Regions from separate parts of the Homo sapiens genome. Here all the other regions are linked to region 1. The links come from fine-mapping of genetic effects on gene expression. A gene starts in region 1. Each other region holds a variant in brackets. All regions are shown on one strand. Distances are between the middles of the regions.

Region 1 (10,147 bases):
ATCTGGGTCTTCTGACCCAAAGCCTGGTGGTTTCCCATCTGCCCTCTTGATGCAGGAGTCCAAAGAGGAGGCCAGGGGGCATGCTCAGAAGCTGCGAAGGGGAGCTAGACCTGCCTCCATCAAGGAGTCCAGGTGTCTGGGATCCACCTGTCTACCTCCCTCCCAACCTTATGGAATATTCCTCAGAGTCTCCCCCTACCCAAATTTGGTAGGGTTTCTCTTCGTTCAGAAGCTCTGGCCTTCTTCTTCAGCTATTTCCTTATTTTGGTGGTGTCTGAGTGAACCCAGGACAAGACCTGCCAAGGAATTTTCTATGTCAGTCTGAAAGAAAAGCTCACCTCCTCCATCGCTTGCAGCAGGGGTTCCAGCTGGAGTCTGCAAAGCCAGGGCGATTCTCCCTTCCCCATAAGGGACATCTGGATATGTCTGGACACATTTCTGATTGTCACATCTGGGAGGGTGGGTGCTGATGACGTCTGGTGGGTAAATGCCAGGAGTGGTGTTAAACATCCGGCAAGGCCCGGGACAGCCCCCGCCACAAAGAATAATTCAGCTCAAAGTGTCACCACTGCTGTGGTTGAGAAACCTGCTGTGAAAAATGCCAGGAGGGAGGAGAAAGGAGCCCCTTAACTTCAGTGCCTTATGTCCATGGGACACTGACACCCCCAGGCAGAAGCAGCCACTTCACTTGGCAGGGCGGCACAAAATGAAAATGTTGCAATTCTTGTGAAAAATGATTTAAAATTTCAAGACAGCAACAGCAGACCATTAAACAAGGGCCTGTGGGACTGGCCAGGACACCCACCTAGGAAGCTGGAAAGAGCTCTCTGCTGGTCCCTGGGATCCCCTGGGTGCCCTGTCCTCAGCTCTCAGGCTTGTAGTCACACGACTCCTCCAAAGAGTTCAGGCCAGAACACTGAGACGGCAGTGCCTGCTGAGAATCTGAAGTGGCAGACTCACCTTTCCTTTATGGAGGAAAAAATCTCACTTTTGACTGTCAGGGAATGAAGGGACAGGACTCAGAGGACTGTCTAGGAGGTCCTGAGTCCTCCCCCGTCCTACTGCTTCTTGGGAGGGTCAATATGCCACGAGGGTTTTCAAGCACAAAGTAATTAAGAGGAGGAGCAGAAAGCTTCCAGTCTCCAAGCTGGTAGCCCCCAGGGCTGAATCTGTGGTTTTCTGTTTGCTGTGACACTTCATCTGTAGAGGGCCGCTCTGGGAAAGAGCGGTGCATACTGGGCTCCATCTGAGGAACAGATCCTGGAAATGACCTTCTCTCCTTGTCTCTCCCTGTCTCTCCCACACCCCCTCAATAAGCAGCCTCCTGCCATTTATTTCAATGATATTGCTTTTGTTTTGTTTCATTTTTCTTAAGCATTTTATTTTTATTTTTATTTTTGAGAGGGAGTCTTCCTCCGTCACCCAGGCTGGAGTGCAGTGGCATGATTTTGGCTCACTGCAACTCTGCCTCCCAGGTTCAAGCGATTCTCCTGCCTCAGCCTCTGGAGCAGCTGAGATTACAGGCACACACCACCACACCTGGATAATTTTTGTATTTTAGTAGAGACCCGTTTTTGTCATGTTGGCCAGGCTGGTCTCGAACTCCTGGCTTTAAGTGATCTGCCCGCCTCGGCCTCCCAAAGTGCTGGGATTACAGGCGTGAGCCACTGTGCCCAGCCTTGAGCATTTTACAGTTAGATTGTTCTTCAGGGTTGAGGGTGTTTTTGCAAACCATCTCACATGCCTTTGAGAAGATCGGAGGGAGGGCTGCAGGGGTGTGAGTGGTAGCCCAGGTGGACAGGAGCAGCCACGAGGGGCCCACCGTGAATCAGATCGTCTGTGGAACAGGAGAGAAGGGCCCTGCCACCTGCTCAGGCAGCCCCCACAGCAGATAGTTGTAGATTTCCAGAGCTTCAGCTTCCCTTTCAAGAGTGGAGGGGAAAAAAAGCAAGAGGAAGGCCTGGGGGCTAGGGCAACCCACCCACCAGACAATGATCACAGACCAGCCACCATCAGCCACAAATTCTGCAGCTCAGGTCTAATAGTAATCACTGGTGCTGTAAACATTTAAGCACCTACTGCCTTCTGGTACGCATATGGGCATCAGCATGGTAAGTAGCGAAGAGCATGGATGGACCCTTGAACCAGACTCCAGCTTGAATTCCAACTGCCACTTAATGGCTGTATAACCTTAATCTCTCTGTGACTTAGTTTCCTTGTGTATAAAGTGTGGGACCTACCTCATCGGGGTCACTATCCATAGCTTAATTTTTATAAAGTGCTTAGGAAAGTATTTGACACGTGGTAAGCACTAATATAAAGAGGTGTAAAGAAAAATCATGCCTATAATCCTAGCACTTTGGGAGGCTGAGGTGGGTGGATCACTTGAGGTCAGGAGTTCAAAATCAGCCTGGCCAACATGAAGAAACCCCGTCTCTACTAAAAATAGAAAAAAATTAGCTGGGCGTGATGGTGCACACCTGTAATCCCTGCTACTCAGGAGGCTGAGGCAGGAGAATTGCTTAAACCCGGGAGGCAGAGGTTGCAGTGAGCTATCGCACCACTGCACTCCAGCCTGGGCAACAGAGCGAGACTCTGACTCAAAAGAAAGACAAAAATTAAATTACCAGATTTAATCCCCATGGTAACCCTAAGAGGTAGGGACTGTTATCGTCCACATTAATAGACAGGACACTTGGAACACAGAGAGGCTGAGACCCAGGTCCAGAGTCACACAGCTCGTCTGAGGCAGAGCCTGGATTCAAATCCAAGCAGTCTGGCTTTCTGTAGGACTGTGTCCTCTCTCCAAGGGGAGGATGGAGCTTGACCACCTGTGTTCAGGTCCTGGCTTACCCATCAATTAGCTTGGGCTCCAATATCCTCCTCTGAAGTCAAGGAGGTTCCCCAGATGTCGTGGATGACTCCCATGAGTGGCTCTTAGAGGCCAGGAGGCCTGGGTGTCTAGTCAGTGTCCTGGCCTCAGTCCTGGCCTCTGGGACAAGGGAATTGTGGATAGGGGAGCAGCTGTCCCTGAGCAGGGTGGATGGATGTGGCAGTTTCCAGCCCAGCTCACTGCACCCGCTGTCAGCCGTTATTGAAACACATAGCCAGGGCTGGGTAACAAGACGGCCACAGAAATGATCTGAAGTGGATTTAATCATTGCCCTGGTCCCTGCCAACTCTTGTCCACTTAGGGGTTTTGCCTGTCTCGCTCGGACTTGACAGTCTGGACACTCAAGGTGATGAGCTGCCCAGAGCACCCAAGACCCAGACTCCACCCAGGACTGTCCTCTCCTGGACCACCTGCCTGAAACTTCCATCCTGACCCTTCTCCACCTTCTCAATGGGACCTGGGGTGAGAGCCCAAGCTGGGAGCGCCGGCCTGGCATTGTGTAGTTTAGACAAGTCCTTGAAGCAGGGCAGGTGGGGGAATGGGGAGGAGTCGGGGGCTCAGGCCCCCATGTTCCTCCCCAGCACAGCCTCACCTGCTCTGCCTCAGAGTGACTCAGGACAAAATCCCCAGGTGGCTCTGATGGTACTTGAAGTGACAGAGGGAAGGAGGAATCTGGAATGGAGACCCCAGCCCCAGGCCCTTGAGCTCAACCCAGCACCAGCCCCCAGACCTGTTCACTCTTTGGCCTTCCAGGGCCAGCCCCAGGCTGGGCTGTCACTGATGTGGGTGAGCAGGAGTGGTCCCCGTTCCTCACAGGGGCTTCTCTCTATGCACACCTCACATCATCCCCCGACCTCCAGGCATAAACCAGCCTTGCAGCCCTGACTCCAGACCTGTCCAGAGAAAGTGCCACCTGCCTGGGGAGCTGATGCAGATGAGAGGGAAGGAGAGAGAGACAGTGTCCCCTGCACCATGCCCTGAACTTCCCAAGGGACCTTCATCAAGCTCCCCTGGGGGCTGTATTGTTAAAATGCACAGATTCTTGGACCTCGACTCTGGACTTCCAGAAGCGAAATCTCTGCGGGGGTGGAGGAATTGGGCACTGATTCTAATGAAGTCCCCAGGGCAATCTCACCTGCTTTAGAGCAGAGGTTGGTACCCTGGCTGCACATCAGAGTCTCATGGGAAATCTAAACACATCCGTTCCAGGGCCTCACCCCCAGACCAAGCAGACCAGTGTCAGGGCTGGACATCAGGCATTCGTATTTTGTAAAAAATGATTAAAATGTGCACCCAGGGTTGAGAACTGCTTCAGAATTTGCAGACCTCCAGCTGGGTCTGACCCAGGAAAACAGGAAACAAGAGAGATGGTGTCAGCTGGGGCCCTTCACTGGTGGGGCCAGGTGGGTGGGGGGAACATCCCCACGATCCAGGCGACCCCCACCGCTGGCCAGGCAACCTCATGGCTGAAGGCGAGGAGGGACGCAGGCACGAGGGCCTTGGCGTAAGGAAGCTGGCTCTGCAGTCAGGCCCTGCCCTGGGGCTGTTCAGATGCCCAGGAGGGCAGGTTTATGCGAATGAAGCAATTACAGAACCATTTAAAAGAGTGAGGGAACTTGGTCCAGAAATGCCTGTGGAGCTTTCAAAAGGGGTGAGTGACCTCATCCAGCCAAGAAAGGGTCTGGGAGAGAAGCTGGAGGCCGAGGTCTTCAGTCTAGGCTAGGGGAGGGGAGAGAACGTTTAAGAGGGTGGCAGGCATTCCTGTCCCAAGTCACCAACTGGGTAGCGCTCTTGTTTGTCTTATGCAAGAGTGTTTAGATAAGAACAGGCTTTTGCATTTCAAAAAGGAGCCTGTTCTTCCTCGCCTTGCTTCTTCCTGTGCTGAGTAAACGGAAGGCACACCCTTGTTTCCCTCCCTATTCACAGCTCCTCTGTCCGCCACAAAGACAACCTCCTCCCCTTCTGCCCTCGTCTTCTGCCTGTGGACATTCAAGGGACCCCGCTCCTCCTTCATCCTTTCTCTCCTGCACGAATGAATCGTTTCCCGTGAATCTGCTCTTTGAAAAACCCCTTCCTAACTTCCATCTCTCTTCCTCTGCTCTCTTTGATGCCATCGCTTCTTAAAAGGGAGGCCTAGACTCACTGCTGTCTCACTTTTGTACGTTTATTTTCATCATGGTAAAATATACATAGCATAATATTTACCATTTGAGCCCTTTTAAGGTGTACAATTCAGTGGCATTTACATTCAAAACATTGTGCAACCATCCTGATGATCTATTTCCAGAGCTTTTTTTTTTTTTTTTAAATCATCCCAAACAAATTCTGGAACTGTGAGATAATAATGTCCCATTCTTTTCTCCTCCCAGTTCCTGGTAACCTCCATTCTTTCTGTCTCTATGAATTTGCCTATTGTAGAAACCTCGTGTAAGTGACATCATTCCATATGGGGCCTTTGTGTCTGGCTTATTTCACCTAACATCATGTTGCAGCAAGGTTCATTTCATTTCTTTTTATGGCTGAATAATATTCCCTCGTACAGATGGACAGCAGGTGTTGACCTATTCATCGGTTGTCTATTCGGCCTCCACAATCCACTGTTTTCATCCCTTCTTGCTGTCTCTACTTCTATGACCCTGGCCTAAGTCACCATTTTCTTCCACCAGAGTGCTCAGTGGCCTCCTCTGAGATTTCACTCTTTTTTTTTTCTTTTAAACAGCGTTATTGAAATGTAATTCATATATTATGTAATTCTCCCATTTAAAGTGGACAATTCAGGCTACTCTGCCTATGGAGTGGCCATGCTTTTGTTTCTTTACTTCTCTAATAAGCTTGCTTTCACTTAAAAAAAAAAAGTATACAATTCAATGGTTGCTAGTATATTCCATGTAGCTGCAATCGTCACCGTGGTCCATTTTACAGCATTTGTATCACCTCAAAAAGAAGCTCTGACCCTTCAGCTATCTCCCCTCCCCAACGCTCACCCTTACAGCCCTAGGCAACTAGTAATCTACTTTCTGTCTCTAGAGATTTGCCTCTTCTGGGCATTTTGTCTAAATGGAATCATACAATCCGTGGTCTTTTGTGAATGGCTTCCTTCACTTATCGTGATGGTTCCCGGGTTCATTCATGCTGTCCTATCGGCACTTCATTCCTTTCTATGGCCAAATAACTACCTCATTGTATGGATTCATTGGTGGACATTTATGTCGTTTCTATCTTTGGGCTATTACAAATAATGCTGCTTTAAACATTTTGTACAGGTTTCTGTATGAATATATGTTTTCGTTTCTCGTGGGTCTATACAGAGGAGTGGAACTGTGGGTCACACGGTAACTCTGTGTAATCGTTTGAGGACCTGCAGGCCACAGTGGCTGTCCTGCCTCCTCTCTTGCCTCTTTCAAAACTCCTCTTCACAGAGCAGCTGATGCGATCTTTCAAAAATGAACTTCAAATCATGTTTCATCTTTCTTGTAAAATCCTTCAATGACTTCCCAGCGTTCTTAGAATAAAACAAACATCATCACCATGGTCTACAAGACCCTGTGGCTGGGCACCAACTCCTTCTGGGACCATCCCTGCCTGCCTGTAGGGCTCCCGCTCCTTTGGGCGTCCCGGCCGCTGCTCCAGCAGGCCTAGGAACTTTCTCGTGAAGTCATCTGCGCTGGCTCCTCCCTCTGCTGGAACAGTCTTCGCTCTTGTTTCAGCCTCCTGTGGACGCTGTAACCAATTGCCATCAACTGGGTGCCTTCAAACAACAGAAATGGCTTCTCTCATCATTGTGGAGGCCCAGCTCTAAAGTCAAGGTCTTGCCAGGGGCCTGTTCCCTCTGAAGGCTGTGGGAGAGCATCCTCTTTGCCTCTTCCAGCTGCAGGTGGTTACCACCAATCCTCCGGGTTCCCTGGCTTGTAGCTGCATCGCTGCAGCCTCTGCCACTGTTGTCACGAGGCCATCTCCCTCTGCGTGTCTGTGCTTTCACTGTCTTTCCTCTGTGCATGGCTGTGTCTCTTCTCCCTTCATATGAGGACACAAATCATATTGGGTTAAGGGCCCATCTTACTCTAGTATGACCTCACATTAACTACATCTGCAATGATCCTATTTGCACATAAGATCATATTCTGGCAGGGCATGGTGGCACACGCTGCAATCCCTGCACTTTGGGAGGTCAAGGTGGGAGGATTGCTTGAGGCCAGGATTCAAGACCAGCCTGGGCAACACACTAAGACCCTGATTCTTTAAAAAAAAAAAAAAAAAAAAAAAATTCTGAGGTTCCTGGAGAAAATATGAATGGTGGTGGGGGCAGGGGAGGGCACTATTCAACCCTGTATAGCACAGTTCCTCATGTCCCAGCTCAGATTTCAACTCCTTCTCACCCACTATCCCCACCCCAGCTCCCCTCTCCCAGGGCACCTTTCTGGTTTCTTTTTGGCACCTTCACAAGCTGTAAGTAGGTGTTGTTGTTGGTTATTCATCCATTTCCCCTACTGGGTGAAAGCTCCCTGAAGGCTGCTCCTTGTCTATCAAGCTCATCACTCTGCCACTGTGATCCACTGCCTGATGCAGGGTGACTCTTCAGCAACGTGGAAGGAGACAGGGAAGATCCTGGTCCTGCAAGAGGAAGCCTGGACACAAGGTGTGCATGGGCCCCGAGCAGTCCACCAACACACGCTGTGGCGTGTATCAGCACTTCCTTCCTTTACATGGACAAATGCGATCCCATCATATGGACACACACACTCCGTTTATCCATTCACCAGTTGATGGACATTGGCATCGTTTCCATCTTTTAAAAAGAACATATAGTTGTACATATTTATGGGGTATAGTGTGATGTGTCCACACATGTATAGCTTGTGTAAGGATCAAATCAGGGTAATTAGCAAATTCATCACCTCCAATATTTGTCATGTCTTTGCGGTGAGCACATTCGAAGTCCTCTCTTCTAGGTATTTTGAAATATTCCGTACATTAGTATTAACAATAGCCACTCTTCTGTGCCAGAGAAGAACAGAATGTTTTCCTCCCATCTAATTGTATGTTGTTTTCATCATGGTGTCCACCGTGAGGCCTTGGCCTTTGGCGTACCAGTCACTGAGTGCTCAGTGGGTGACTCCAGCCCATCTCAACAACGTTGGTGACAGTGTCAGCTCTCAAGGGCAGGATTCAGTCATCCAACCCACTTTGCACCTCCAAGCATCGATGACAGGTGGGTATTCAGAAAACGTGCTGAAAACTTCATGGAAGCTACAGCTCGACTCCCAAGAGAGAAGCCTGTCTTTGAAGTGCCTGTGGAATGAGAATGACCTTCCTCTGTCAAACTTCCTTTCCAGTATGATGTTTTAGTCAATCCAGAGATGTATTCCTTCCTGTGCATTGGGGATGGACTTGCATCTGGGGAGGGTGTCTGGGGTCAGATCATCCCAGGCCACTAGGACCTGAGGTGTTGAAAATCCTGGAGGATCACTGCTGTACCCAGTGCATTGACGGCCCCACTCTCCTGGCCGTCTGCCTTCTACAGCCTCTGCTGAGATGAAGGCAATTTGGCTGGATGTGGTGAGGAATCTGTACAGGGAAGAGAGGCTGTTGCAGAGGAGGCAGCTGTAGGAGCGTCAGCACCCAGGAACGCACTCTCTGGAGCCTGGTGCAGAAATAGCACCCACTGCGTGTGGTGAGTGTCTGGTGTCTGGCATTCTGTGATGCTCTTCGGTTTTAAGACACCTGCCAGGAACAAAGTGGGGACTGGTAAACCAAGGTGCAAGATTGCAAAAGAGGCTCTACTTCCCCCTGCCTTCCTGTATTCTCATCCTTTGCAATATGACTTTGCATCTTCCCCCATCAAGAGCTGGAGTCTATTTCCCTCCCATATTAGCTTCCTAGGGCTGCTGTAGCAAATTGCCATAAAGCAGGTGGCTGAAACAACAGAATAAGTCCAAAGTCAAGTTGTTGGAAGGGCCATGCTCTCTCTGAAGGCTCTAGGGGAGAATCCACTCCAGATCTCTCTCCTGGTGTCAATCCTTGGACTTGCTTGGCTTGTAGCTCCATCACTCCAATCTCTGCCTCTGACTTTGTGTGTCTTTCTCACTGTGTCTCTCTGTCTCTGTGTCTTCCTCTCTTCTTACAAGGATGCCGGTCATTGGATTTGGAGCCCACTCTAAATCTAGGATGTTTGCACCTGGAGATCCCTAATTATTTACATCTGCAAAGACCCTATTTCCAAGGAAAGTCACATTCTGAGGTTCCAGATGGACACGCATTTTTTGGGGACACTATTCAAACTACTACACCACCCCTTGAATCTGAACTGGCCATTTGTCTTGCTGTGGTCAACAGAAGCTGGTAGAAGTGACAATGTGTCCACTCTAAGGCCATGAAGCCTCCACTCTTGACCGTGGAACACTAAGACCACCTGTGAACAAGCCTGAACTAGCCCATGGCCCAGCTAGGCCAACCAGCCTCCAGCCCACCCAGCAGTTGTGCAGATGAATGCAGCTGAGCTCAGTGAAGCTCAGTAGAACATCTCAGACCAGCTGAGTCCACTGTAAATTGGCAAACCACAGAATTGAGACTGAGTATATGGTTGTTGTTTGAGGCCACACCAAGTTTAGGGTTATTTGTTACACAGTAGTCGATGACTGATTCACAAGGTGTTATTGGTTTAGGGCAAATGGGAGATGAGTGCCATTTCTGGGTGCTGCCCACGTATAACAAAAACCAAAGTCTTGGCTGGGCGCAGTGGCTCACACCTGTAATCCCAGCACTTTGGGAGTCCGAGGTGGGAGGATCACGAGGTCAGGAATTCGAGACCAGCCTGGCTAAGATGGTGAAACGCTGTCTCTACTAAAAATACAAAAATTAGCTGGGCATGGTTGCAGGCACCTGTAGTACCAGCTGCTCGGGAGGCTGAGGCAGAAGTTTGAACCTGGGAAGTGAAGGTTGCAGTGAGCCGAGATAGTGCAATTGCACTCCAGCCTGGGTGACAGGGTGAGACTCCATCTCAAAAAAATAAAAAAATAAATAAATAAAATAAAATAAAAAACTAAAGGCTTGGATCTAAACCATCTACTAGTGGCAGGAAGTCTAGGCATCTTCTGAGCCACCCTCAGGATCAAATAAAGCTACTGGCTGGGTGTGGTGGTTCACGTCTGTAATCCCAGCACTTTGCGAGGCCGAGGCGGATGGATCATGAGGTCAGGAGTTCAAGACCAGCCTGGCCAAGATGGTGAAACCCCGTCTCTACTAAAAATACAAGAA
Region 2 (10,147 bases), 56 kb before region 1:
TTATGCCAAAACCCTACCCACTGTTTAGTTTTGTTGTTAGGCATTCTGTGATTTGACTTGCTAAATCTGGCAGTTCTACCTAGAGCCTAAATACCTTCTTCTCACAATTCCTAAGCTGAGAAATGATCGTTTGTCCCCAAGCAATCGCTGGATCCAGTAGAGGCAGCACGAGGACTGTAGGCCGGAGGCGAAGGATTCCCAGCTCTGAGGATTGGTACAAAAATCCAAAGGGTTTCTTGTAGAGCCAGTTTGAGGTGGATATACGGACCAGGCAACCTAACAAGGTGGTTTTGCCCTGGGATTCAAACATAGGAAAACTAGAAGGGGAAAGGAAAGAGGCCCTTATTTTTTGGTGTTAATCATCATTTACTACATGGAGACTTTTTAAAAAAAAAGACTGGGATGTTTCTTGGTTAAATGGTGAAAGGGAAATGAAATTGACAGGGCCCTTAGCTGGCTTGTCCCTGCAGAGACTAGAGCTTCTCTCTTCCAACAGAGTATTGACTCAACCCACACATAGATCTTTCTGTGGGAACTAGGAGAACAGAGATGTCCCCCTGCCTTCCTGATGAGAAACATTGTCAGAGTTACTGGCCTTTGATCCCAGACTAGCAAGCATACCATTGAGTCCAGGTCCCACTGGGACATGAGCAAGGTGGAGATTGTTCAGCCCTGATATAAATGCGGGAGGGGAGCTTCATGGCTCCAGGGTAGTCGTAGACCCCACCACCTACATGAGGGACCCTCTGGAATCACAGGGCATGGTCTAGAAGCCAGACAAAAATCTTCTCTGATGCCTTTCCCTGGGATGGGAGGGGGTTTCAGTAGCTGGAGTCCCCGAACGCTGTGCCCCTTGGCCCAGCCTCTATCAGCACTGGGGTTGACCCACTACTGAAATTCAGTGGGCGTTCCTTCCGCTGCTGCCAATTTCACCACTGTCAAGTGTGGTTACAGGTGCAAGGAGTGGGTGCAGCAGGGGGCAACAACTCCTCAAGGGAGCTTTGGCAGGAGGGGTGCAGCCATGGACCACGATGGGGATTGTGCCTGGCTGGTGAAGACCCAGGGAGTCCCCAGAACAGAGAGCTCTAGGGTGAGACACAGAATCCTCCCAATGCCCCACCTGCCAACCCCCAGATGCAGCTGGGGTTCTAGCTGGCTCCAGGCCCCACGGTGCCCGGAGGGCTACAGTGGATAAAGTCTGCTAAAAGTTACACTGTATTTATTTATTCCCTAGAAGTACAGAGAGACCTGCATAAGAGGAAAGGGCAAGGCATATAGAGACCATAAAAAGAGTTGAGTTTTTATGTAGTGGTAACCTGGGGAATTAATTTCTGGCTAACAGAGGTCGCACGACAATAACTGAGTTTTGAACAAGCACAGTTCAAAACTCCCTGGGGAGGTACGGAGAGGCCACTGAGCCTTGAAGGCAGGATGGAGGTGGGTGGAGTGAGGGGTGGGAGATGGCCAGGGCTGGCCTTGGGGACATGGGTACTAGGACCCAATTTCAAAGCACAGTAAGGCTAATAACTAAATGCTGGTTTCATTCAGTCCACATTTATTGGGCACCTACTGTGTGCCTAAACCTGAGTGAATAACATGGGGATTACAGTGATGGATAAACTGGGGCCCCACTCTCAATACTGTCATTGTCTTTTGGGGGGGTACCAGGAATGATGCTACCTGTGACTGGGCCATCAGGCATGACAGATAGAGCATGACCTGGGAATCAGACCCCATGGGCAGGAATTCTGCTTCTTTACTATAAACTCTGCCACCTTGGCAAGATGCTTAATCTTTCTCCCTCAGTTTCCTCATATAGAAAATAAGAATAATCCTACTTTCTGCCTCTTGAGATTGTGATGAAGATTTATGTGAACAGAAATGGCCTGGCATGTAACACCTTCTATCAGGACACACACTCTGAGAAACAGCTTCACTGAGTTTGAGGCAAAGTATTATGATGGTCCAGAGTGACTCATCCAGTGGAGGGGTCCAGGAAGGCTTCATGGAGGAGGTGACTTCTGATTTAGGTTTTAAAGCATGAATAAGATCTACATGAAGGGAGAAGAGAGGCACAACTTCTAGGCAGGTGCTACAAGCTGTGGCGGGAAGAATAGGAGGGGCCACGTGGCACTGAGTGCTTGATGTCCTGGGGGTGTTCTGGCCAAATTTAGGGAGCCCCCCCTTAAATATATAAGGCTGAGCTCAGGATGGTGGGCAGGCGGTGACCACACGTGGGGAGGAAACCAGAGCACCTGGTACAGTGCCCAGTCCCGGTCTTCTCCAGATACTGATGAAGGGGTGCGGGCATATTTTGGCTGAAGGCAGCAGCCCTAAGCTCCGGAAGACACCACATTCACCAAGTCAGAACCCTCGGGATGGGAGCCAAAGAATGTTTTCTAGCACTCAGTGAGAGAACAGGCCCGGGCTACCTGATTGAAAGACACCGCAACCCACACGTGTAGCCTTACATTTTCCAGCAGCCACATTAAAAAAAAGTGAAAAGAAACAGGTGAGATTGCTCACAATAGCATACGTCATTTAACCCAATATATGAAAAATGCCATGATTTCCATGCATAATAAATATAAAAGAATTATTTATGAGATATCTTGCCATCTCTTTTTCATACTGGGTCCTAAAAGTCCTGTGTGTATCCCACACTTCAGGCACCTCACTAGCCCAGTGTCCAGTGATCAATAGCCACATGTGGCTCAGGGCTGTCATATCCAACAGCACAGTGATGAAATCACAGTGAAACTTCTCCACTCTCCAGTCCAGAGACGGCCATCTCCCCATGGCCTCCGCAGGGCATTCTCCAAACTCACACATCTGGAGCCAATGCCCACGGGCTCCTGGCTGGTCATTCTGTGTTGTCTGATACTGTTCATGTTGGTGACCTTAGTGCTGGCCAGGGAGGGAGTCTGGCTCTCTTCTATTGGAGGTAATTGTGGAGTGGGGTGGCTGTGGGGCCTCAGAACACCTTGGAGCTCTCAAAGACCCTCTCACATCTTGGCCATTCCCACTTCCAGGACCAAAGCAATGATTCTGGGAATCAGCTGGGGCCACCACTGGAATAGAATGAGGCGATGGGGAGAGCCCAAGTTGGGAAAATGGAATCTTTGGTGACTGTGGGGGATGTGAGAGCCACAGACAGGAGATCACGGGTGCCTCTGCCTGCCACATATTTGAAAATGCACAAAGCAAGAGCCTCCCCTCTCCCCAGCACACGCAGGCACAGGGAAGTGTGATCATGGAATCAATTTATTTGTCTACTAATGCGCCAGGCACTGTGTTTTATAGGTATGAGCCCATGTCAGCCTCACGACAACCCTTGAGATAGGTCCTATCAGTGCCTCCATTTTAAAGATGAGAAAACAGAGGCACAGAGAGGTGAAGCATCTTGTCCGGAGTCACACAGCTAGTGGGTGGGGTAGCCAGGATTTGGACCTAGGGGGAGCTCCATCCGGGCACCAAGTCCACTGTCCCCTGGAAATCACATCATGACAAGGGGAGAAGGCAGTGGGGAGATGGAAAAGTTGGGAGGCTGTTCAGGAACTGGTGACAAGGAGGGGGAAGGCTGCCATCTGGCACCACCATGCAGGCAGTCCCAGATGGTGGAGAACCCACATCCACTGCCTGGCCGGGCTGGAACAGGATGGGGCGCAGACAGGCAGGTTCTCGGCAGACAGGCTCTGTGAAGAAGGTCTCATGCTTCCCCCATCCCACCCCAAGGGAGTGGCGAGGGAAGGGAAGCCTGTGACCTCATCATCTGGGCCAAGGCCAATGACATCACCAGGAGGGCAAGGAGCCAGGCCCAGCAAGTTATTTATGGAAACGGCTGGCGGCCAGGCACAGCTCCTGAGCTGTTTCAGATGTGGCTGGGATAAAGCCTCCAGCTGGCCCACTGGGGCTGCTGAGGCCAGGCAGGCGGGTGAGGATGAAGGAGGGCTGGAGGAGGGCTGGGGGAGTCAGCCCGCTGATGGGGCAGGGCTCTTCGAAGGCTCACTGGGGTCCCCAGCGGGGATCACTGGGGCACCATGCTTCTCCTTGGCGTCTGCCCATCTGTGTCCTCCCTTGCTCAGGGTGGACCTGTGGTCTCTGCAGCCTGCCATCAGGGTCTGAGTCTGGATGAGCTTAGAAAGAGCAGCATGGAGATTTCAATCACAAGCCACAGCTCATGTGTGCATCTATATTCGTGTGCCTGAGGGGATGTACTGTGTGCATGGCTGTTGTATGTGCGTCCCTGTCAATGGATAGATATACTCTCTGGTCCCTTGTATATTGCTCCCCTGAGTGGTCATAGGGGTAGTTAAGTTTGTGAGTTCATGGATATGGGCATCTCTGCATGAGTGTGTGTGTGTGTGTGTGTGTATGTGTTTGTAGGAGATGGGGAGAAGAGAGAGACAGAGTGCACAAGACCTAGCAAATAGGAAGAGAGGAGTCACGAGGGGAGAGAAATCACTGTAGGAAGTTGGGAAATATAATTTCAGTGGAGGATACAGAGGCACTTATGGAAGCTTCAGCAAAAGTAGACAAACCTTTCAATC[C/T]ATTTATCAAAAATGCCTGCAGCTCTGCCGCCTGAGTAGGTGCAACAAGAATAAAATATTGAGCAGAACCAGTGATTGTGGGACTGGAGGAGGCCAATAAATAAGAAATTACTGAGATGCTCACCCTGAGTCCAATGAGTTTGCTCTGGCACTCCCTCTACTCATCATGCCCTGTGGTCTCTTGGGTGCTGGCTGGGACAAGCTAGCAGGAACCCACGTGGCCAGATCTCTGGCATTTTGACTTTAGGACTTCTGGAAGGATGCCTGGGAGAATCAGGGGGAACAGAGCTGCCAAGCTCCACTCAGGTAAGCTTTGGTGTGGTGGTAACACAGGGGCCCTGCTTCTCATGCCTCTTGGCCTTGCTAGCTGCCCTCCTTCCCTTTAAAATCCTCCATGAGGGAACGAAATCTACAAGACCCTGAATGGAGCTTTGGTGGTTGATCTATGGGCTCTCGATGGAGCAACAGGGGTATGGGAATGGGAGCCAGGTCATGACCAAGGGGCTCCCAAACCTAGACCCCAGCCTGTGCTATCTACAAAGACCTCATCTTGCCTCCCAGATCTTAGGCCTTTTGAGTGATGGGTGGAGGGATGACACCATGAAACCTCCCACTGAATGGGAACCCCATCCTTTGGTACGTCCTCTTTCATGTCATGACCACCCACCCCAGAAAAGAAAACGAGCACTTTTTCAAATGCCCTTAAACTTGAACTCAGGATGAGTTGAAACAGGATGTCTCATTGATTTTTTTTTCACCTCCAAGTCCACAAAAGAGTAATGGGCACAGCTTTCCCCCTCCCCTCCCACACCCTGGCAACTGCCCCTCAACCCCCTGACCGATCACCTGCTTCCCTCACACCCACACAGCACCCCCTCAATAACAGAACTAGAATCGTTGCATCTCAATGCCAAGAACCACAATGGCAGGATAAACTGCCCGGGAGACCCCATCCAGGGCCATGGCTGTGGGAGTCACATTCTCTAACCTTCTCCCAGCTGTGATCAGCAGAATGGGAGAGGTCCAGCTGAGTGGCTCTCTGGGTTGCCAAGCTAAACACCCAGAAGGCAGGAAATAAGATTAACTCTCAGCAGGAAATAGAGGGATAAAGGTTGACTGGGGCAGTGGAGGCGCCAACTGGATGTTCCAAGGGACAAAAAGGAGGACCCTGGCTCTGTGGGAGCAGCCTGAGCTCACAGAATCCACTCCTTCTGCTTTCAGAAACACAGCAGATGGGAACTCCACTTTTTTAGAGTGTTCTGGGGAGGCAAATCCCCTATCTACAAGTTGTTCCTAGTTTCCCTGCCTCATTGCAGAAGGCCTATCTTAGGACCCAAGCAAGATGCAGTGTTGTTAGGCTCTTGGACCTGGAAAAGGTCCTGAGCTCTCCACTGCCCCACTGCCTCCACTGCACTCTCTAGGTATTTGTAACCGAGTATGATTGCATGTATATGGGTCTGCCCAAGCATGGGCACCTGTCCCTTCCAAAGGCACCCTCATCCTTGGGAGGGATGGAGGTGGAACAGCAGGACGAACTTCCCAGCAGTCAATCAATCTAGAATTCTGAAGACAATTTCACCCCCAGACGGCAACAGGATGAGCAGGATCAGGGAGCAGCACTCTTGTTTGCAGGGCTGGTACTCTCTATCACATTTCTAGAGCCTGTGAAATGCCATTCCAGGCTGCTGGTCCAGGACCGTTCTCCTTTCCTTGTTTCTCTAGCCCTGCTTCCATGCTGGACAGGCCTAAGTGTGTAGGGGGCGGTGGTTGAGGAAAGTTGATAGGGCAACCATCCCAGGTGGCTCTTTCCTTTGCCTTTGTAAAATCTGTAAGAAGAGGAAGCAGTCGTTTTCCTGGGGCGCTGGGGTATAGCCCCATAGATTGAAACTATGTGAGGCACAGCACCAAGCAGAAAGACCTGGTTTCCATCCTATCATCTGCGTCCCAGCGGCTCGCATTACTGGCTCCTTTAAAGACTGACATCTGGGCTTTGGCCAGTGCTCAGATTGCAAGAATAAGGAGCTATATCTCTAGTGAGATGGTCGGGGGGTTGTCATTGCACCAGCTTTCAAAGGGCTTTTCACCATTGTCATACTTTTCTTTTTCAGTCTTACTTAAGGAGATGTGTTCAAACAATGATGATGATGATGATATTGCCGTGTGCTTACTCTATGCTAGATGCTTCACTTTTGTTGTTCATTTAATTAGCACAATGATCCAATTAAGTAGGTATTATTATCTCCACTTTTCATATGAGGAAACTGAGGCCGAGAAAGGCTATGTGACTTTCCAATGGCCACGGGTATCCTGAACCCAAACCCAGGGCTGGATGACTACCAAGCCCATGCTATTGCTCGGGCACTTTTCTGCTTCTGCAAGGGAAGTGGTTTCAGGCAGAGAAAGCTAAAAGCTGGCCTGAGTGATTAGCTCTTCTCAGGGTGCAGAAGGCCCAGAACTTCAGGCAGAGGATGCACAGCCAGCGAGTGACTCATCTCGGTTTGCTTGAGACTTTTTAGCACTGAAAGTCTTGCCTTCTGGGAGCCCCATCAGTCTCGGGCACACTGAGATGGTTGGTACCCTAGATGGAGTGCACGCCAAGGACAGTGTGGACCAGGTACAGTGGATGGACCCTGGAGAACCACCTGCTCTGGGTGGTTGAAGGTAGTGGGCTCAAGTCAGTGGGCAGAATGAGATTTGCTGGCAAAGGCTCTTCTTTTTTTTCTTCTTCTTTTTTTTTTTTTTTGAGATGGAGTCTCGCTCTGTCACCCAGGCTGGAGTGCAGTGGCATGATCTCGGCTCACTGTAAGCTCTGCCTCCTGGGTTCACGCCATTCTCCTGCCTCAGCCTCCCGGGTCCACGCCATTCTCCTGCCTCAGCCTCCCAAGTAGCTGGGACTACAGGCGCCTGCCACCATGCCCGGCTAATTTTTTGTATATATATATTTTTAATAGTGATGGGGTTTCACCGTGTTAGCCAGGATGGTCTCAATCTCCTGACCTCGTGATCTGCCCACCTCAGCCTCCCAAAGTGCTGGGATTACAGGCGTGAGCCATCGCGCCCAGCCAAGGCAAAGGCTCTTCTGAGCAGCCAGTCTGTGGATCTGAAGGTCACCAGCTTGATCTACTCCTGTCTCCACTGGAAACAATGTACAAATCCTTCACCACGTTCATACTTGGCTGCAAGCATGCCCTGTGCCCCTGACATTGCTACGCCTGGCCCTGGGGCCCTGGCCCCATCTGAATCTCATTTCCCCTTAGATGGTAAATAAAGAGAATGATGGTTTTCTCAGCCTCTCGTACCACCAACAATCTCCACCCTCTGTCAGTCAAGTCATAGAAGGGTCATGGAAGGGCTGAACATACCAGGAATGTTGCCAGTGCTGGGGGCCCACACTGTCAGATGCAGGGTTCCGGGTCACTGGGGACCCAGCGAGATGGGACAAGGTGAGAAGAAGAGGAAAAGGAGAAAGGCAAAATTCCCAGCCAAAAAAAAAAAAAAGTTCAATCAGATTTGTAAAGGGCACAATTTACAAATCCGTCACATATTTTACTAGGCTGGGATTTACGGATTAGCCTGTAATACTTAGGCGGCTTTTTGTAATAAAACCCTGAGCCGAGGCAGTCTTGGGGAAGTGAGGAGGAGGAAGGAGGCTTCTCTCTCTATCTTGCTTTCATTTTCCCAGCATTTTTTGATCTAGGCAGTCCCATTAATCTGTGCTTTATCTGCCTATGGAGAAGGATTGAGCTCTTTATTGGATTTTTGTCAAGAATAAATGATTTAGTTTGGGATACTGTGGAAACGATTTTTGTGGTATTACACCATCTAATAAATGAAACAGCAGGGATCAATTCCTTTCTTGCAATGTGTTCAACAGGCAGGGTGAAATATGCCCCACAATTATTTGGTATTGCACTCCATAGATATTTATAACCGAGTAGGACTGCATGTATATGGGTCTGCCCAGGCATGGGCACCTGTCCCAGATGATGTGATCCATTAGTCCCAGAGCATGAGACTAGAGACCCAAGTGACAGGTCGGTCAGAAATGCTGACCAGGTTCACTCGAACAGTCAAGGCTGAGGGCTGGAGAGAAGGAATCAGGTTTGAAGGTGAGGGCTGCAGTTGAGAGACTGTATTTACCAAGGCTTGAGTGCTTTTCCTGGAGCTTTGGAAGTGAGAGAAACTAACAGGGTGGGACGTCATTGCCACAGCAGACCTGGCAAATGCCTGGTGCGTGGGGACTCTATGCAGAGAACTGAGGTCCCATCCCCTACCCATCCTGGGTACCCCCGTCCATGTCCCACTGGCCTCTCTCCCTGGACATTGCTTCGAGGGAAAATGTCTGGAAGTTTTTGGAGAAGGGACCTGGCTTTCTGTCCAGGTAGGCTCATAAGGTTTATATCCCTGAAGCCTCACAAATATTTATTGAGAGCCTATTACATGACAGCGCTTAGCACAGGCCTGGCCTGAAGTAAACTGGATATAGATATTTGTTCACAGATTGACAAACAGAAAGCCTTACAAGATGCCCTTCCCAGGCGCAAACCCACGTCACCCTCACAAGCAGAAACAGGGAATAGTAAGGATGAGGGACAGATGGTCGCTAGGAAACTGCAGCCTTCCTCCGATCCCTAACCCCAGGGGTAAAAACAGAATGATCGTGAAGGCAGGGAGCGGGGACAGGTGGTCCTGGGCAGCGTGGCTTATGCCCTGCCCATGGAGATGCCTGTGTTGGAGATGGTTGCTTACCCAGGTTTCACACGCCGGACATCAGCACCTTGGCTCAAATTGTTGAAAACAGTCCCCTTCGGTCTATCAGCGCCATCAGAGACATGTTGGACGTGACACCTTTGTGAGCTTTGTACACCTCAATATTCATCAAATGAAGGCCCGAAGAAATGGATGTCAGTATTAGCAAGATTCTTTCGCCCAGAGCTTCGTGGCGTTGGTATCTCCTTGGCTGGTCTTGCCTCCCAGCTGCATGCTCTGTAAATGTTTGTAGTGAGCGTGAGACACTACAGCTCTCTGTCTCTCTGCCTTAAGCCCACTCTATTTTTATACTATTTGGTATTATCTTTGCTGGCTGTTTTTTCTCTGCCACAATCAGAATTCTTGGGGCTCGGTGCCGACGGGAGGGGTTTTAAGTGTCTTTGGCAGGAAGAATTTCTTCTGTCTGTAGTTCAATCTGAAGTTCATTCACATTCTCCTTGCAAAGAATGGCGGATGCAGTGAGAGTTGCCGTAAAAGCGATGAAAAAGTCATCGGCAATCCTTACCACATCCGTACATCGGCAGCTCGGAGGCTTGACTGCTGGAGCGAGATGTGGCCCAAGACGCCCCGGTGGAGGCTAGGGTCCTCATGGTGCCATTTGCCCCAACTCCCAGGAGGGGCAGGGAGACGATTTCCTCTCAACTTCCCAGGCGGCTTTAGGATGTCAACTTGGGTCTTGGCCTGGAGCCCTTTGGATTCTTTCATGTTTTTCTTGACTTGCTAAGTGTGCTTTCCATCAGTTGGATACGGAATGCATCAAAACAATCATTATTATTTCAACCACAGCCTCCTCTGAAAGCGCTTTTTCTTGGATATAACACCTCTGT
Region 3 (10,147 bases), 67 kb before region 1:
TCCTTTCCGGGAATGCTGTTGAACAAAAAAGTGGGACCTGGGGTGGCTGAGATGGGCGTCCTGGAGAAGTGTGGGCTGGGAGACCTAGAAGCCACCTTTCGGTAGAATAATCTAGGATCTCAAAACTTCCTGGGCTCCTGTCCTGTTTGGGGTTAAGGGACTTGATGAGACAATGCTGAAGGAACCCTACAGCTGACTTTGTGGAGCTTGTCTCCCATGCCAAGCTCTTGCCTTAGCTATCCGCTTTAGTGCTCACAGCAATTCTATGATTCAAGAATTGCTTTACTACCCCATTTTGCAGAGGAGAAGACAGAGCATAAAGAGGTTAAACCATGCCTATGGTCACCCCTATCGGTGAAGCTGAGATTTGAAGTGGCGTTTGGACCCCAGAGCTGAGCTGATTATCACCATGACATTCAACCTTCCAGAATCCTGCAGACCCTCAATAGGGTGCCCTGCCCTCCTGTCCATGCCTGGGCCTTCCAGGACTAGCAGAGTGGTGTAGGACATTCAGGGATGGGCCAGGGCATCCTTGTACGTGGCCCCTCCCTAGGTCACCCCCAATCCCTGCTCTGGTTGGCTCCACACTTTTACATGAAGCCCCGCTGCTCCCAGATGGGGGATTAGACCAGGGGCTCCTGTTCAGCTTTTCATGCAGGAAGACTACTGAGCAGGGGCTGGCTGTGGAAGAGGGGAAAGTTGCCACCCTTGTCTAAAATTGCCGCTGCGGGATGGAGAGGAAGATTCCTGCATACCCAAGGAGAGGTTGAGGCTCCAGGGAGAAGGAGGGAGCAGCGCTGCCTGAGCACATGCCCCCAGCGTGTGGGCTGCTGGGCAGATGCCAGCATCCCCATCATTTAGGGCCTGAATAAACAGCCTTGTTTTACTCTGCTCTTTGCTGAGCAAAACAGGGCTCCAAACCCCTCCTGGCCATCCTCAAATCTCTTCCATTTTCCAAATCCTCAAACGCTTGAGGCTGTATCTCTTTGGCCTGTCCACCATAGAAAACAAGAGGCTGGTCCCTTCCCAGGCGAGGAGAGCCTCCCTCCCGGTGCTCCTGCGGTCGCCACACGTCTCCGTGGCTGACTCTTTATAGCAAGGTGCAGACACCAGGGATGGGGGTTCAGATGTGTGCACAGCAGGGTCTTTGGGGTCAGGGAGCTCTTCAGGGCAGGCAGAGCACATTCTCAGGCCATTAGCTGGTTGGGCCAGAGTTCACCTGCCACCACCCTGCCCCCAGACCAGCATCACGGCAGGGTCCCTGGTCCCTCAGAGACCCCTTGAGAGAGCAATCCCCACCACGGTCCAGGAGGTAGCTGCAAACCTGGAAAAACAGGACAGACTCCAGGAGAAGCACATAAGCCAATTAAGAGCCCAGGCTGGCCCGGCGGCTCCAGTAGCACCTGCTCTCATCTTGTGAGGTGCATGCGGCTTGGGCTGCTGGGAAGGTACAGTGCGGCCTAATTACACACTCCTCCGTGACAGGCGGTGTCAAAAGATTAAAGGAATCAAACCAAGTGGCTCTCCAGTGGCCCCTCCCCCAGGAACCAGAGCTGCTGCGTGAAGGTGATTATGGTACCAACGTAGTGGTTAGAAAGATAATTTTCTCTGGGCCCTGTGCCTGCCGCCTCCTCCACTGAGCTGCGCTTCGGCACTGCGACTCGGCCACCTTGTCTGGGCTTCACAGATTCCTTTTCTTTTTTGTTGGCACAGCTGAGCAGAAGGAAACAAACTAAGCAGCTCTCCCTCCACCAGCCTCCCACCCCACCACCCACGGGCCTCTCCTCCTCTTCCCTCTCCTCCCCTTCCCCTACCTTCCCCTCCCCTCCCCTTCCCTCTCTTCCTCTTCCCCTCCCCTCCCTTCCCTTCCCCTCCCCTCCCCTCCCTTCCCCTCCCTTCCCCTTCCCCTCCTCTCCCCTTCCATCCCCTCCCCTCTCTTCCCTTTCTCACCCCTCCCTTCCCCTTCTCTCCCCTCCCTTCCCCTTCTCTCCCCTCCCCTCCCTTCCCTTCCCCTCCTCTTCTTTCTTTCTTCTCCTCTCTCTCCTCTCTCTTCTCTGTCTCCTCTCTCTCTTCTTTCTCTCTCTCCTTTCTCTCCTCTCTCTCTCTCTTTGCTTCCCATTCTGTTTTTCTTCCTAGTCATCTCCATTCTGTTCTGCCCCTTTCACCTCCTGTTTGGTCTCTGCATCTCTTTTCCTTCCCCTCCTTAAAGACCTGTCAGAGTTCAAGGATAAGGAAGCCACTGTGGGCTGCTTCCTGTTTTTTTGTTTTTGTTTTTTTTTTGTTTTTTTTCTTTTCTTTTTTCCGCTCTGATGGTCTTTAAAATAATAACAGCAATAATCATGACCAATAACCGTCCTCGCCTCTTGCCAGCCCGTGTAGATGGCTTCCCTTGCATCACTTATGATACGTTATCAGATAAGGAAAGGGAGGACCAGGGGCTCTGCACTTGCCTCAGGGTTTGTGGCTGGTGAAGGCTGGAACCAAGGCTGTGAGCTCTGCCTGTTGACTGCAGAGAAGCTACCGACCTACTCAGGCCTGGGGAAGGAGGAGGGAGGGATGGTGGGAGAGGAATATTTGAAAGCAAGATGGGGGCGAGGCATGATGGCTCATTCCTATAATCCCAGCACTAAGGGAGGCTGAGACAGGAGGATTGCCTGAGGCCAGGAGTTCAAGACCAGCCTGGCCAACATAGGAGACCCCGTCTCTACCAGAAAAAAAAAAAAAAGAGAGAGAAAAAAAAAAATTAGCCAGGTGTGGTGGCACATACCCGTAGTCTCAGCTACTTGGGAGGCTGAGGTGGGAGGATTACTTGAGCCTAGGAGTTTGAGACCAGCCCAAGCAACATAGTGAGACCCCATCTCTACAAAAAAAAAAAAAAAAAAAAAAAAAAAAAAAAAACGAAACAGGAGGACCACCTGAGCCCAGGAGGTTGAGACGGCAGTGAGCTGTGAGCTGTGCCATTGCACTCCAGCCTGGGTGACAGAGCAAGACCCTGCCTAAAAAAAAAAAAAAAGGCAAGATAAGAAGGCACCTCTGCAAGTATCTCCTCCAGGCAGAGAGGACTGAGTATCAGTGAGGGAGGGGAGCAGGGTACCGGGACCCCCACTCCAGACTCTGCCATGCCTCTGCCCAACTTTGCTGCAGTGACTTTGGGCAAGCATCCCTGATTTACCCGGCTATGGGCTGTCACCCCTGAGGAGGGAATGCCATGTCCCTCAGGTGAGCAGAGGAAGGGTTGAGAGCTGGTCGGAACCTTCAGTATGCAGGGAGGGGCTGGAGCTCCTGGAAGACATGTGACTTGCCTAAGGTTATTCGCAGGATGGGCCCAGAGCTCCACTCTCCTGCCCTTCAGCCTGAGAGTCCTCATTCACTTCTCTGCACCTTCAGTATCTGCAGGGTCTTTGCCAAAACCCAAACCTCCACAGGGGTCCTCTCACATCCTTTCCATGATGACACGGTGACCATCTGTGAGTGGGAGGAAAGACGCCCGGAGGGGTTGGTGGAAGTGGGCGCTCCCTCACAATGACTTCTGCTTCTGAGGGTGTGAAGACACAGCTTGGGATTTCAGGCGGAGGGTTTGCTAATGTCACTACAGCACACACCTGCTGGGAATGGTATCTTGGCGGGGGAAGGGGCACGGAGCGGAAGAGGGGGATGCAAAACCCACCTCTTTCTGGTCTCTTCCCTCCCATTTCCATCCTACTGCACTTGGAAACAGAGCATCAGGGAGGGATTAGGGATTTAAAAAGTGGCCGTTAGAGGAAGGCAAGAGTGGCCCGCACCAGCTACTGTGGAGTGTCTCCATTACCATAATAACTAACCACTTAATAACTGGCTTCCCCACTAATTCTAATTGAAACACATAATGATATTTCCGGGCCGAGAGTGGCAAGCTCAAGTCTCGGCAGACATCTCCAGGCGCACCCCCCCAGCTTCACGTGGCGAAAACTGTGGGCTCTCCTTGGGTATTCTGTTGGAATAGATTCGGGCAGCCGACACCAGCTCTTGTACGGCTGCCAGGAACCACAGCTGATGATAAAAGCCATTAAAGGTCAGCTGGGAATAGAAAACCATTTATGTTAAATGTCACAGATTAAGCCGCAGAGTGGGCCTTGGGCAGGGAGCAAAGGGTGAGATGCGAAATGCTGGTCACTGTGCTGCCTCTGTAAGGTCTGGGGCAGTGGGGGGGATTGAAGGGTGGAGGTGAAGCCAGGGGCAGGGGAGCACTTGAGTTCCTGCTCCCTCCAGCCTGGGGAGGCAGGTGGATGCTGGCAGCCACAGGTGATTAGGTGATTGGCCAGGCTGGCCGCCCTGAGGTTGCTAGGCGACCTGAGGGCAAGGTGTGGGGAGAGGATGGAGTGGGTCTGTGTGGCATCATCGCAGAAGGGGACCCGGGCGGTCTCTAGAAGGGCCAATGAGATGGAGGCTGCTTCCACTTACAGAGGGACCCTTGCAGGCTCTTTTTCTGGAGTGTGGTCAGCGGGACAGTGTGGGTGTGCCTAATCATGACTGAGGATGAGTGTGACACAAGTCAACTGCTCACTGCAGCCACAGCCAGGAAGTCACAGAGAAACAAACACCACGCCCCCTTCACTACCTTCCAATGGCCTCGGAAGCTGCAGTTTGAAGGACACAGGAGGGGCTCAAGTGGGAGGGGTTTCAGGGCTCAGAGGAGCCTGGGCCAGGCCCTAAAGGGTGGCTCCAAGAGAACTGGGGACTCTGGTTCTATCGCCGCCTCAAAAGTGCCTGTGCTCCTTAAACCTGAACCTGAGTATCCGGCAAGAGCCCCTCTGTGCATCTCTGCTCCGTCCTTTGGCAAAACTCACCTGAGAAGCCGGTTTGTTGACAGGTCTGAGAAACCCCCTGGAAGTTAATTAGATCACTCAGATCCCACTGAAACAATGACTACCATCCTTGGTGACCTACCTGGGGAGTGGTTCACTTTTGCTGGTTGAGCCAGAGACTTCGTTTCCGTGCTTCTCCACCTCCCACCTTGCCTCCAGATTGCCGAGCTGTTGCTGTGTGCACAGGGAATGAAGGCTCATTTTAATATTGGTGCAAGCAGACATCATTGGGAAGGTAAATCTAGTGGGAGAGGGGAGCAGGCAAAATGAATATCACCCCAAGCCCTGTCCTGCAGCCTTAAGTCCAGTCACAGGAGGGTAGTTTGAAGCAGGGGCATGTTTCCTCTGGGAATTGGGAATCATTCATACCATTGGATGGGGCCTGAAGGAGATACTGAGGTTGTCTCCCCCGAAACCCCTGGGATGGAGAACAGATCTCCACCAGCGCAAGGGGTCCCGGGAAGGCCCTCACCTTCACTCTTCCTATGAGTTGTTTGACAGCAGAATGACTGGGCTGGAAGTGACCTGGCCTAGAAGCACTCACAGGAATACGATGGGATGGAGGGAGATCCCAGGAGGCCCTGAGGGTCCAGCCAGTGGGTGCTGTGTCAAGATGGTAGGATGAGTGGGCTTGGTAGGATGGCTGGGGGTGAGGCTGGGATGTTGATAGACACTAGGAAGATTTATATTGATTTCTGCCATCAATAGATTCGTATTGGCAACTACTCTGCACCGGCCCAGTGGCTGGCACTGGAAATATAATGCTAAGTAAGACCATTATCCTTTCTTCTAGAACCTCACTGAGAATAGGGAAGATCAATATGTTCCCGAGTAATTATGGTACATTAAAACTATCTCTAGGAGAGAGGCAGTGCAAGGGACTCAGAGCACCTAGAAGAGCAACCAGGAAGATGGGGAAGGCTTCAGAAAGGCAACATTGGAACCACCGGGCCTTCCATAGTCGAAAGGAGAAGGCTGGAGAGGAAAGTGTGGGCAAGATGGTAAAGAGCCTTGGATACTGTTCTTAAGAAGAGAGTTGAAAGTTAATTCTGAAGGCAAGAGAGAGGTATGTGCTGTTTTGGGGCAGGAGAATGAGAGGGCTTGTCCTGGATTTTAGAAAGAACACTCTAGAAGCTACAGGGAGGATGTGCCAGACACAGAGGTTCTCAACCTTGACTGCATCAAAATCATTTGGAGGGCTGGTGGAAACACGGATCACTGGTCCCTGCAGCCCAAGAGTTTTTAATTCAGCAAGGCTG[G/C]GCTGTGGCCAGAGAATTTGTATTCCTAACAAGCTCCCACGTGCTGCTGCTTTGGGTCCTGGGACCACAGTTTGAGAACCACTGTGTTGGAGAGAGGATCTGTGCAGGATCTGGAAGCAAGGAGAGCAGGTAGAAAGAAATGGGAATAAAATGAGAGATGATGAGGAGACTGGCTTGAGAGACCACTGAGGTCTCGGGGCAGGCAGATGGCGTGGTGCAGATGGGGAGAGGCAGGGCTCAGATGCAGGGAGTGGGTAGCAGAATCATGATATGGCTTTGGAGGGGCTGAAGCAGCAGAAGATGGTCAGGACAAGGAAGTGCAAAGCCAGGAAATGGGAACAGGATCCCAGGCAGGGCTGAGGTCCCAAGGGAGCAAGGACAGAGCCAGAGACTGGGGCTGGGGTCAGAGTTCCAACTCATTTGGCTGAGGAGGTGAGCAGTGGGCCAAGACTCCTACACTCTCTGCTTTTAGGCAATTAGGCCTCATTTCTGGGAGAAAAACACAGCTACAAATGGGCCTGGTTTTGCAGGTCAGGAGCACACAAGGGCGTGAATCCCACAGAGCAGGCCCAGAAATAGCGTGGGAGAGACTCTGATTCACTGTGTGCAGTGAGGTGCCAGCCTAGTTAAAGCACCCTGTCGGCCAGGCGCGGTGGCTCATGCCTGTAATCCCAGCCTTGGGGAGGCCAAGGCAGGCGGATCACCTGAGGTCAGGAGTTTGAGACCAGCCTGGCCAACATGGTGAAACCCCGTCTCTACTAAAAATACAAAAATTAGCCGGGCATGGTGGTGGGTGCCTGTAATCGGGAGGCTGAGGCAGGAGAATTGCTTGAACCAGGAAGTTGGAGGTTGCAGTGATCCAAGATCACGCCACTGCACTGCAGCCTGGGCAACAGAGCAAGACTCTGTCTCAAAAAAAAAAAAAAAAAAAAGGGCACCCTGTTGCTGGCCCCTAAGTGGCAGCCCACCCAGCCTGGGAGAACCCAGTCAGACAGGCTTTGTTCAAGACTTAAGCCCCAGTGACACAAGCGCCGCTCAGACCTCTCTTTTAGTCCCAAGGCCTGGCTGCTGGTCCAATTGCCTGTGGGAGGGAGACATCTCCCGGGAAGAGTGAAGAATCCAGCCACAAGCAGAGCAGCTGGAAGTTGATTCCATTTCTTTTCAGCAGCCTAGGAGCAGGCAAGGGGACTGGAAGGGGAGTGGGTGAGCAGACAGACCCCAGGAAGGGGTGCTCCTGAGGTTTTCAGCTAACAGAGCCCAGATGGATGTCTCCACCAACTTCCTGGTGCTGGGACAACCTTCATCTCTGCCTCTGTCCCCAAGGCTGTGTCCCTGTGTCTTAGCCCTGACGTCTCTTCTCCCGTGGTGGTCTTGCCAGTCTCATCCACTCAGTGGTTTATTTAAAGTACACAAAACATCAGACCATGATTTAAAGGAAGCTGGTATCTAGACTTTACACCACTTAGTTATGTTTTAAGCAGGAGGCCCTGAGGGTCCAGGCAGTGGGCGCTGTGTCAAGATGGTAGGGTGGGTGGGCTTGGTAGGATGGCTGGGGGTGAGGGTGGGACATTGATAGACACCAGGAAAAGTTATATTGGTTTCTGCCGTCAATAGATACGTATTGGCAACTACTCTGCACTGGCCCAGTGGTTGGCACTGGAAATATAATGCTAAATAAGACTATTATCTTTGCCTCTAGAACCTCACTGCGAATAAGGAAGATCAATATGTTCCCGAGTAATTATAATACATTAAAACTATCTCTAGGAGAGAGGCAGTGCAAGGGACTCAGAGCACCTAGAAGAGCAACCAGGAGGATGGCGAAGGCTTCAATGGGATCTGAGTGATCTAATTAACTTCCGGAGGATTTTTCAGACCTGTCAACAAACTGGCTTCTCAGGCTAGATGTGGCCCTGACTCTAGGGCCTCATATAAAGTTTTATTACCCACTTCACAGTGGAATAAGTTCGCTGCTGGGCCTGATGTCTGTCTGTCCATCTGCCAGTCAAGAATACGTGCAGGCACTGCTCTGCCGGATCTCCTGCCCATCTCCCTCCCAGAGTTCTCACCCAAGCACGGTTATTCCTGGTTAACCTTCCTGAGCATCTGGCTCTCCTAGGATCCAGGTCTTGAATTGTTCCTGCTTCCAGACTCTCTGAACCCATGGCCCCAAGCTCCCTTGCACCTGTTCTGCTCCACTTTCCTGCTCATGGCCACTACCGGGATTTCTATCCCCTCCCTGCCCCCGGGTTGCCACCTCTGCTCCACCTTTGGCAGCTGGCCTGATGGGTACCTGCACCATCTCTCCTGATACCAATATCAGCATGGGCATCTTGTCTCCAATGCCTGATCACAGTTTATGGACCACTCCTTCTAGACTGAGGTTTCTCTTCGGCCCATGGTGATGTTATAGGAGGCTGTTTGGGCTCCCAGGGGAAAAGGGAGCGTCTCTGGATGGGTGGCCTTGTGTAGAGGAGAGCTGACAGGCAGGAGGCAGCCTGGAAGGAGGAGAGGGAAGACACTGGATGACAGGGATGCTGGGGAAGGGGGCTCTCCAGCACCCACTGTGGGTAGCCTGGAGGATGGTCGGTCCCCTCCAGGATAATGTTCATTGCAGGCCAGGGCTGCCAGGATAGCTAGGCAGGACAAAGGGTTGCCACGGGTGGGCAGGGGTGGGTGGGGTGGGGTCGGCTCACCCTGGCCAGCATCTGCCTCTGTCGGGGCAGCAGGGAAGCCAGGAACCCTGTGGCTTTCCACTGTCTTCTCTTTGACTCTTCAGAAGAGGCACAATCCCAAGGGAAGATAGGATTGTAACAAGTTTGGAGGGGAAAAGGGAAGAGAAACCCTAAAACCTTCCTACCAGGACTCTCCTCTGAGATCCAAAACACACTCCCAGAAGCTGACACCCATAAGCACTGACTATGGACCAGACTCAGCTTCACCCCATGATCCCTGGGCCCTGCCACCATGACCCTGAGAGGAAGGAACCATTATGATGATCAATTTGGAAATGAGAAAATGGAAACTCAGAGAGTTGAATACCTGGTCTAAGATCATATAGCAAGAATTTGGGCCAGAACTGCCTGCCCCCATGGCCCATATTTGCAACTGTGACAGCCTCACAGCTAAGCACAATCATTTCTCGGAGCTCCCTGGGCCTTGGTGGAGCCGGGCTGCTCACAGAGATCATCCCCCAAGGCGCCGAGAACCACCTAAGCCCAATCATTCCAGCTGCATCCCAATAGTTAGCCTTTGACGGGGTCAGCAAACTTTGGCTCCAGGGCCACATATAAAGTGTTATTGGAATGCAGCTTTGCTTGTGCATTTCAGTATCGTTTGTGACTGCTCATGCTACATTGGCCTCATTGAGTAGCTGAAACAAATGCCTAACATGTTTGCTCTCAGGCTCTTTCCAGAACGTGTGTTATCGTAGCTCAGGCTGCTATAACAAAATATCATAGACTGGGGGGCTTAACAGACATTTGTTCCTCACAGTTTGGAGGATGTAAGTCCGAGCTCAGGGTGCCAGCATGGTTGGGTTCTGGTAAGGGATCTTTTCCTGGCGTGCCGGCTGCTGACTTTTTACTGTATCCTCATGTGGCACAAAGAAGCAGCCTTGTTCTCTTCCTCTTCTCCAAAAAACACAAATCTCATCTTGGGGGTCCACCTTCATGACCTGATCTAAGCCTAATCTACTCCCAAAGTCCCCACCTCCAAATACCCCAAATACCATTGCATTCGAGGTTAGGGCTTTAACATACGACTTTTGCGGTGGCACAAGTATTCAGTCCGTAACATATGTCCGCCTCTGGACTTTGATAAAATCACAAGCTCACCAACGTCTAGCAGAGCCCAGCTGCGATGGTGAGGGCCTGTGTGTGTGCATATGCACGGATGTAGTGTTTGTGCGTGTGTGCATGGATGTAGGGGTGTGTGTGTGTCCAAGTGTGTGTGCGAGAGGCCCCTGACATCCCGCTCAGGTTCTCTCCTGCCCTCTCCCTGGAGAAGGAGGAGTAGGTGTTGAGTGGGCAGTGATCTCCTTTC

Which allele goes with the higher level. Alleles are on the strand shown, and positions count from the first base shown. SD is a standard deviation of normalised expression in the study named. Not every link is listed here.
For the expression in spleen of the gene that starts at base 5,188 in region 1, allele T in region 2 goes with a lower level than allele C (moderate effect, 0.45 SD a copy in GTEx).

The links.
Region 2: its variant is fine-mapped to the expression of LINC00469 in spleen (GTEx, PIP 0.99).
Region 3: its variant is fine-mapped to the expression of LINC00469 in whole blood (TOPMed, PIP above 0.99).

Annotation. Positions count from the first base shown.
Region 1 is chr17:73,823,350-73,833,496 of GRCh38, forward strand. It overlaps LINC00469 (long intergenic non-protein coding RNA 469), which reads right to left and starts at 5,188. Exons shown (of 4, transcript NR_027146.1): 1 at 5,099-5,188; 2 at 339-476. RefSeq lists enhancers at 4,525-5,034, 6,025-6,526, 6,527-7,026.
Region 2 is chr17:73,766,899-73,777,045 of GRCh38, forward strand. The region is part of intron 2 of LINC00469 (long intergenic non-protein coding RNA 469); the gene reads right to left. Among named protein-coding and RNA genes, the nearest start is that of LINC02092, 15 kb to the right of the region's middle. RefSeq lists enhancers at 483-983, 3,334-3,835, 3,836-4,335. The variant C/T (reference allele first, on the strand shown) is at 4,551.
Region 3 is chr17:73,756,009-73,766,155 of GRCh38, forward strand. LINC00469 (long intergenic non-protein coding RNA 469) reads right to left here. Exons shown (of 4, transcript NR_027146.1): 3 at 4,927-5,018. It overlaps LOC100134391 (a long non-coding RNA gene), which reads left to right. Exons shown (of 6, transcript NR_164140.1): 6 at 302-549. Among named protein-coding and RNA genes, the nearest start is that of LINC02092, 26 kb to the right of the region's middle. The variant G/C (reference allele first, on the strand shown) is at 6,104.